Homo sapiens: one gene and its partner. The protein of the gene in region 1 interacts with the protein of each later gene in a pairwise test. Each region holds a gene or a part of one and is shown in the gene's direction. Other genes may lie near its edges.

Region 1 (3,500 bases):
CCTGCCTGGGCTTCCCAAAGTGCTGGGATTACAGGCGTGAGCTACTGTGCCCCGCCTAGGTTAGCTTTTTAATTGGCACTGTGTGCCTGCCCCTGAGGATAATTATAATAAAGGTAACAAATATTGGCCGGGTGCAGTGGCTCACGCCTGTAATCCCAGCACTTTGGATGGCCTAGGGTGGGTGGATCACTTCAGGCCAGGAGTTCGAGACCATCCTGGCCAACATGGCGAAACTCCGTCTCTACTAAAAATACAAAAATTAGCTGGATGTGGTGGTGCACACCTGTATTCCCAGCTACTCAGGAGGCTGAGGCAGGAGAATTGCTCAAACCTGGGAGACAGAGGTTGTAATGAGCCAAGATCGCACCATTGCACTCCAGCCTCGGTGACAGAGCAGGACTCCATCTCAAAAAAAAAAAAAAGGTAACAAATATTGAAGCCGGGGGAAGGCCACTCTGGCTGCCAGGTGAAAGACATCGTGGAGAGGAGCCCCAGAGGGTGTGAGGTGAAGTGGAGGGGTGTGGGGAAAAGGCGATGGCCCTTGGATCCAGGTGGGGTGGTGGGGATCAGGAGAGGTGGGGGGATTTAGGAGACAGAGCAGTGGGGCTCACTGGCACCCTGTGGCTGTGATGGGTAGGAGTTTGTCTGCTCCTGCCTCACCTTGATGCCCTGAGGGCAGGGACTCAGTCTTGCTCACTGCCGTAACCCTGGCTCCCAGCGGGTGCCCTGGACAGGTATATTGAATGAATGAACCATTTCAGTAGAAAGACCCCTTAGATATTGTGTGAGCCAAGCCCTTTCTCCCTCTGGTCCCACAGGTGGGGAAACTGAGTCCCAGAGAAGACTGACATGTTGGGTCACTGGCAGTGCTGGGCCTAGGACCTTTCAGCTGGGTTCTGAGAGCCCCACCCTCCACTGCAGCTCTCACTCAGCCTGTCTCTGCAGGGGTCTCCGTCCACGTGTGCAATGAGCACCGTTATGGGTACATGAATGTGCCGGTGAAATCCCACCAGGGGCTGGAAGACGAGAGGGTCAACTTCATCCACCTGATCTTAGAAGCACTAGGTGAGGGCTGGGGAACTGTTCCACCCACCTGCTGCCGGGGCTCCCTGCCTCCCCACGGTGCCCCTTTCCCTAGGCCCTGGACGGAGCGGGCATTGGCCTTGGGGTTCCAGCTTTGTCCCTAACTCGTTCCATGACTCTGAGAAAGTCCCTTTCCCTGTTGGGCCTTAGTCTAGCATCCCTACAATGGGGGCAGGTGGATCCTGTGATCTCTGAGGTCCCGTCCTGTGGGGTGTTCTGCCAAAGGGGGCAGGAATGAGGCTGGGGGCTAGGACTTCAGGGTGACTGCTAACAGGAGTCAGTAGGGACTCGTGCTTGGGGTGTGCTTCCCTTTGCAGTGGACGGCCCCCGCATGCAGGCCTCAGCTCATGTGACTCGGCCCTCTAAGAGGCCCAGCAAGATAGGGTTTGACGAGGTAAGTCCCCCAGCCTGTGGGCTCGCTGTTAGGAGGTGGATGGGCCCTCCTCTTCCGCTCCCTTGCACTTACCGCCCACCCCCCTGCCTCCTCCAGGTCTTTGTCATCAGCCTGGCTCGCAGGCCTGACCGTCGGGAACGCATGCTCGCCTCGCTCTGGGAGATGGAGATCTCTGGGAGGGTGGTGGACGCTGTGGATGGCTGGTGAGCCTGCCTGGTGGGGGGGGCCCTGTGCGCTTGGGGAAGCAGTGTGGTCCATCTCCTAGCCCGCTAGGACTGGGAAAAGCAGACAGGTTGAATGAGTTTCCTGTCCCATGTAGTATCCAAATAGGGTCTGAGTAATATCCTCTCAGGGAGTTCCGGAGCAGACACACGTGGGAGAAGATGCCCTCCTGCTGCTCACCAGAGGAGGAGAGCACAGTGGCTGAGGCTCCAGGGCCTGGGTTCCAGCTCTACCAGTTACTGAATGTGTGACCTCCAGCCAGCTACCCCCATCTCTCAGCCCGTTTGTATAAACAGCAGATAACTGTGCCCTTCTCTTAGGGTTTTGTGAGTTTAGTGAAGTTAGCCAGGGCCGGGCACATAGTTTCCAAAGGCTTAGGTGTCTCCCTTATTATTACTCTCCATCCTGGACTTGAGCTACTGATGCGTGGGGATTAGGAAAGGCCAGCCATGTTCCCCCGAGGAACCCAGAGGCTAGGCTTCTCCAGCCACCAGGGGTCCTATGGCCCCATATGTCGGCTGCCATTTGCTTCAAGTACTCAGCTCTTTTTATTTTTTTTTTAGAGACAGCGTCTCCGTCTGTTGCCCTCCGTCTGTTGCCCAGGCTGGAGTGCGGTGCCACAAACATGGCTCACTGCTGCCTTAAACTCCTGGGCTCAAGTAATCCTCCCACCTCAGCCTTCTGAGTAACTGGGACTATAGGTGTGCACTATCACATCCAGCTAATTAAAAAGAATTTTTTTTTTTTTTTGAGGCAGAGTCTCGCTCTGTCGCCCAGGCCTGGAGTGCAGTGGCGCAATCTTGGCTCACTGCAACATCCGCCTCCCAGGTTTTAAGTGATTCTCCTCCCTCACCTCCCAAGTAGCTGTGATTACAGGCTTGCATCACCACACCCGGATTAAAAAAAATGTTTTGTTTTGTTTTTTTTTCATAGAGATAGGGTCTCACTCTGTTGCCTAGGCTGGTCTTGAACTCCTGGCCTCAAGTGACCGTCCTGCCTCAGCCTCCTGAATAACGGACTACAGGCATGCACCACCATGTCCACCTAATGAAAAAAAATTTTTGACTGGGCACGGTGGCTCATGCCTGTAATCCCAGCACTCTGGGAGGTTATGGATGGATCACCTGAGGTCAGGAGTTCGAGACCAGCCTGGCCAACCAACATGGTGAAACCCCCTCTCTACTAAAAGTACAAAAATTAGCCAGGTGTGGTAGTGGGTGCCTGTAATCTCAGCTACTTGGGAGGCTGAGTCAGGAGAACTGCTGGAACCCAGGAGGCAGAGGTTGCAGTGAGCCGAGATTGTGCCATTGCACTCCAGCCTGGGCCGACAACAGTGAGACTCTGTCTCAAAAAAAATTTTTTTTTTGAGAGATGGGGTTTTTCTCTGTTGCCAAGGCTGGTCTTGAACTCCTGGCCTCAAGCAATCCTCCCACCTTGGCCTCCCAAAGCACTGGGATTACAGGTGTGAGACACCACATCCCCCGAGGTCTCTTGACCATAGGCTATCCATCCTTTGCTTGGGCCTCTGCCCAAGAAGTATCTATCATGTTCCCACATTCTTCCTAGAGTGCCTCCCCCTCAGGCAGCCCCCTACCATCCCACCCTTTCCTCAAGGGTCACCCCTGTCTTATCATATTAGGACATGTCCTAATAGTTATCCTCTCAGAACTCCCGAGGTGGCTGGGCGTGGTGGCTCATGCCTGTAATCCCAGCACTTTGGGAGGCTGAGGTGGGTGGATCACCTGAGGTCAGGAGTTCGAGACCAGCCTGGCCAACATGGTGAAACCCCATCTCTACTAAA
Region 2 (3,500 bases), on another chromosome or scaffold:
TGAGACTCTATCTAAAAAAAAAAAAAAATAACAAACCTAATGAATATGATTGGTCCCTTATCTCCATACAAATATATGTTTCTTGATACCCTTCTCCTAGAGTTATTATAAAGATTTTAAAAATAATCTATATGATTAATTTAGCACAGCGCTAAACATTGGTTTCAAATATGCCTATGCACTGATCTTTACAGAAATGAGTCTGTGTGTATCTGTAGAAAAGGGCAGGAGCTATGTCAAGCCATAGCAGAGTAAATCACTGACTTAAAACCATACAGAATGCTAATCTTACTGATATTGCAGTTGCAAAGAAAATCATCTGTTGGCTCATTGATGTACATAGGGTCTGCTTGGGCAATTCATTCTCATGGGAAAAAGCTCTCAAAATAAATACGAAACCTAAATAGTCAAATGGAGAAAGGAAAAGGAGGGCCTGTCTGATGAGCTGGCTGATACTGGAAATGAACAGAATGTCCATAGGACCAAGACATGGGGAAAAAAGTGAGGCGTGACTAATCTCACCCTGCTGCCTCCAAGGAGTATCGGCCTCTGACATCATCCCTTGAAACTCTCATTGTAGAGTCACAAGGCCCATTTTGAGCAACTCTAGAAGAAAGTAACTAGAAGGCAATCTTTGGACATAATGGTAATGCATAATTACTGAATGACAGAAAACACTGGAACACATGTCATTTCACTTCTGACCCAGCCATTTATTTTTATGGGAAGAACAACAAGAGAATGGCAATGAAATTACAGCAAGAACACTTTAGCTTAAGAATTGAGTAGAATTTTGTTTTTTAACTGATATTAATAAAAAATGTAAAAATGTTACCTTTTAGCATTTAATAATCATATTTTAATCAATATTGATTCTAATGTGTTTTCTGGAAATTTTTAAGATGACTTAGAGTTTCTATAACACTTCATTGTCCCATTTTCCTTTTAATTTAGTTTTTGTTATTTTCAAAATTAATAAGCTGTATCATTCTTTAAATTTTGAATCTTATCTTTCTTAAATTTTTTACTCGGAGATTTTAAAAAATTTTTTTGGAGGTAATGTGTGTGTGTGTGTGTTTTTTTTAAGAGACATTTACAATCAGTGTAAAAAGTATCCCACTATTGTGAAATTGAAAGAAATACCTGGTATACCATGTTGCAGTCTAAATCAGATAGTGAGATTACTGGGTTTGCTTTTAGTGGATTTTATTAGACAATGTATCAATATTATCATTTTCTTTTTTGTCTAGAAATAAACTCGTGTGTATGTATGTGTGAGTAATATTTTTAACCCCAAATGAAAATTGAACCAAAATTACAGTTGGGCATTTTGTATGTGTTAGACTGTCAGTGTCAACATCATCCAAATATTGGTTAACATCACCTGTATACCAGGTAATATTGAATCCAAACTCACCATATAGTGTTAATAGCATAAAGTATTGTATTTTCTTCACTCACCTGAAATGTAATATTGCATAGAAATAGCCCATGCAGTTTTTCATATGTCTTCTTCATCCAACAAATGTGGCTGTGATTAAGTACTCATAAGCAAAGAATCATGTAATGAAAAAAATTTACATACATATGAAATAAGCACACTGGTTCTCAGGCATGAAACAAAGCATATCATCTCTTCCTTTGCATCAAGACTTTTTTTTCTTAAACAAGCAAGACACCGAATAGTGATTTTGAAGTATAAACTTCTTCATAAACATATTTTCAACTCAATATTGTTTCAATTGTAAATGTAACAGGTTTTTTTTAAAGGGCTGCATAGATCTTTGCAAACTTTATATTCATCTCAAGAGACATATTGACTGGGAAAATATTAAGTTCCTTTTAATTTTATTTTTCCCTGGAGCATTTTAAAACTTTGTTCAATCTTTATGGAGTGCATTTTCAAAAATAGATTTCTACTTTCAGTAATAATGTCTTCACTAATCATGGTACAGTACTTCATAAATAGACCAATAATATTTTTGATAAATAATTGATTCATTATTCCCATTTGCGCATGCATATTCAAACTGCATAAGCATCTATAAAATAAGATTGGCTCCATGTACATATAAATGAGACTAAAAGCATACAGAGAAATGGTATATACTCTCCGTACTTTTGACATCTTAATGGTGGATTTTAATAAGGGGAATTCTATATCTCTGGCACGTACTTGTGGTTGGGGCTCAACGGTTTTCATAATAGGATTCTAGCCCCTCGGGAGATGGAAGTTAGGAGCAGAATGAAGGCTTTGGTCCCAAAGATGGGAGTTGTGAGAGCAAAGTGGCAGATGTGTGGTAGCAAGGATGAACTATGTAGAATAAGGAGCCTCTCTAAACTCTCTGTATGGGTTTTAAGCTTTAAACATTGATGGCTTTCATTGTGGGTATGACAGAAATATTTTACAAATGACCATCACCTAAGGCAAATTGAATTTTCTTCTTACAACTTACACGACTTTCCTTCTTGTCATTAATAGTATTTTTCATATGTTGCAAAGAGACGATTGTTAATTCAAGAAAACATAGTTACCTCAATGTCAGTAAGGCTGATTATAGGTGGTATTTTTGGATAGATTGTGATTTTAACAAAGTCATTCAATTAAAAGTTTCCTGAGGTTGTTTGAAGACTTAAAGTGTGCAGTTCCATTCTTTGCCTTTTGAAGAACACCATTTCCTAGATTTCCCCAAGTGTTTTGAGATCGATGGAGATGTTGTGAGAGAGGGAATTGACTGTGAATAGCTGTGTGACCACAGGATGAATGGGATGAATGGTCATGATCATAGCTCTGGTGCCCAGCTGAAGGGGAGAGAATAGAAGAGCTTGCAGTGCTGCTGCCACAGCCTTTAGGGGAGAGGAAATGTTCACACACCACAGTAATGCCGAATTATGTTAACCAAATGATATATGTGGTGGTTGACTGAAGTTTTTTAAGCTTTCCCTGAGGCAAGAAAACTATGGCCTGATATTTATAGAGAGAACATAGATAATGTCAGAGTTTTGAATATTCTTATTTTAAAATACTTCTTAAGATATCCTCCATTCATACCCTTCATTCAATGGAAAGATCTAGCAAGGTTCTTTTATGTGGAACTCAGTATAAAAATACTCTCTTAAACTCACATGACTAACATCTTTAGAAAATGTCTTCTTCTGTAAATAAAAATAATCCATAGGGCACTTCACAGACTGTTAGCAGTATTAAGCCGTAGATAATTTGAATTAATGAGTTCAAATACTTCATTTTCTTAGTGAAAGAAAGTAAACCATGGAAAGATCAATGGGTCCATATTGGGTGATAAAATGAGATAGGGTAAGACCTAGGATCAGAGCTGGGCTCCTTGGTCTCCCAGCCCAGTGCTTGTTTAGTTATACAACACTGTAGGCAACAGGCTACAGGTGGAGGCACTGATCTTTCCACAAACGGATTTGACTGTGTCACTTACTAGATTAAAACCCTTCAAAGCCCATTGAGACCCTGCCACCTCAGAATAGAA

The links. Proteins that work in one complex are often made in the same cells at the same time.
Region 2: the proteins of CERCAM (region 1) and VGLL3 interact in binary tests that used the Homo sapiens proteins (3 or more experiments, as listed by UniProt).

Annotation. Positions count from the first base shown.
Region 1 is NC_000009.12:128,427,357-128,430,856, forward strand, and holds part of CERCAM (inactive glycosyltransferase 25 family member 3 isoform a precursor), read left to right. Parts: intron 1-945; coding exon 946-1,065; intron 1,066-1,400; coding exon 1,401-1,477; intron 1,478-1,573; coding exon 1,574-1,680; intron 1,681-3,500. UniProt on the Homo sapiens protein: Probable cell adhesion protein involved in leukocyte transmigration across the blood-brain barrier. Does not express any beta-galactosyltransferase activity in vitro.
Region 2 is NC_000003.12:86,970,650-86,974,149, reverse strand, and holds part of VGLL3 (transcription cofactor vestigial-like protein 3), read left to right. Parts: intron 1-3,500. UniProt on the Homo sapiens protein: May act as a specific coactivator for the mammalian TEFs.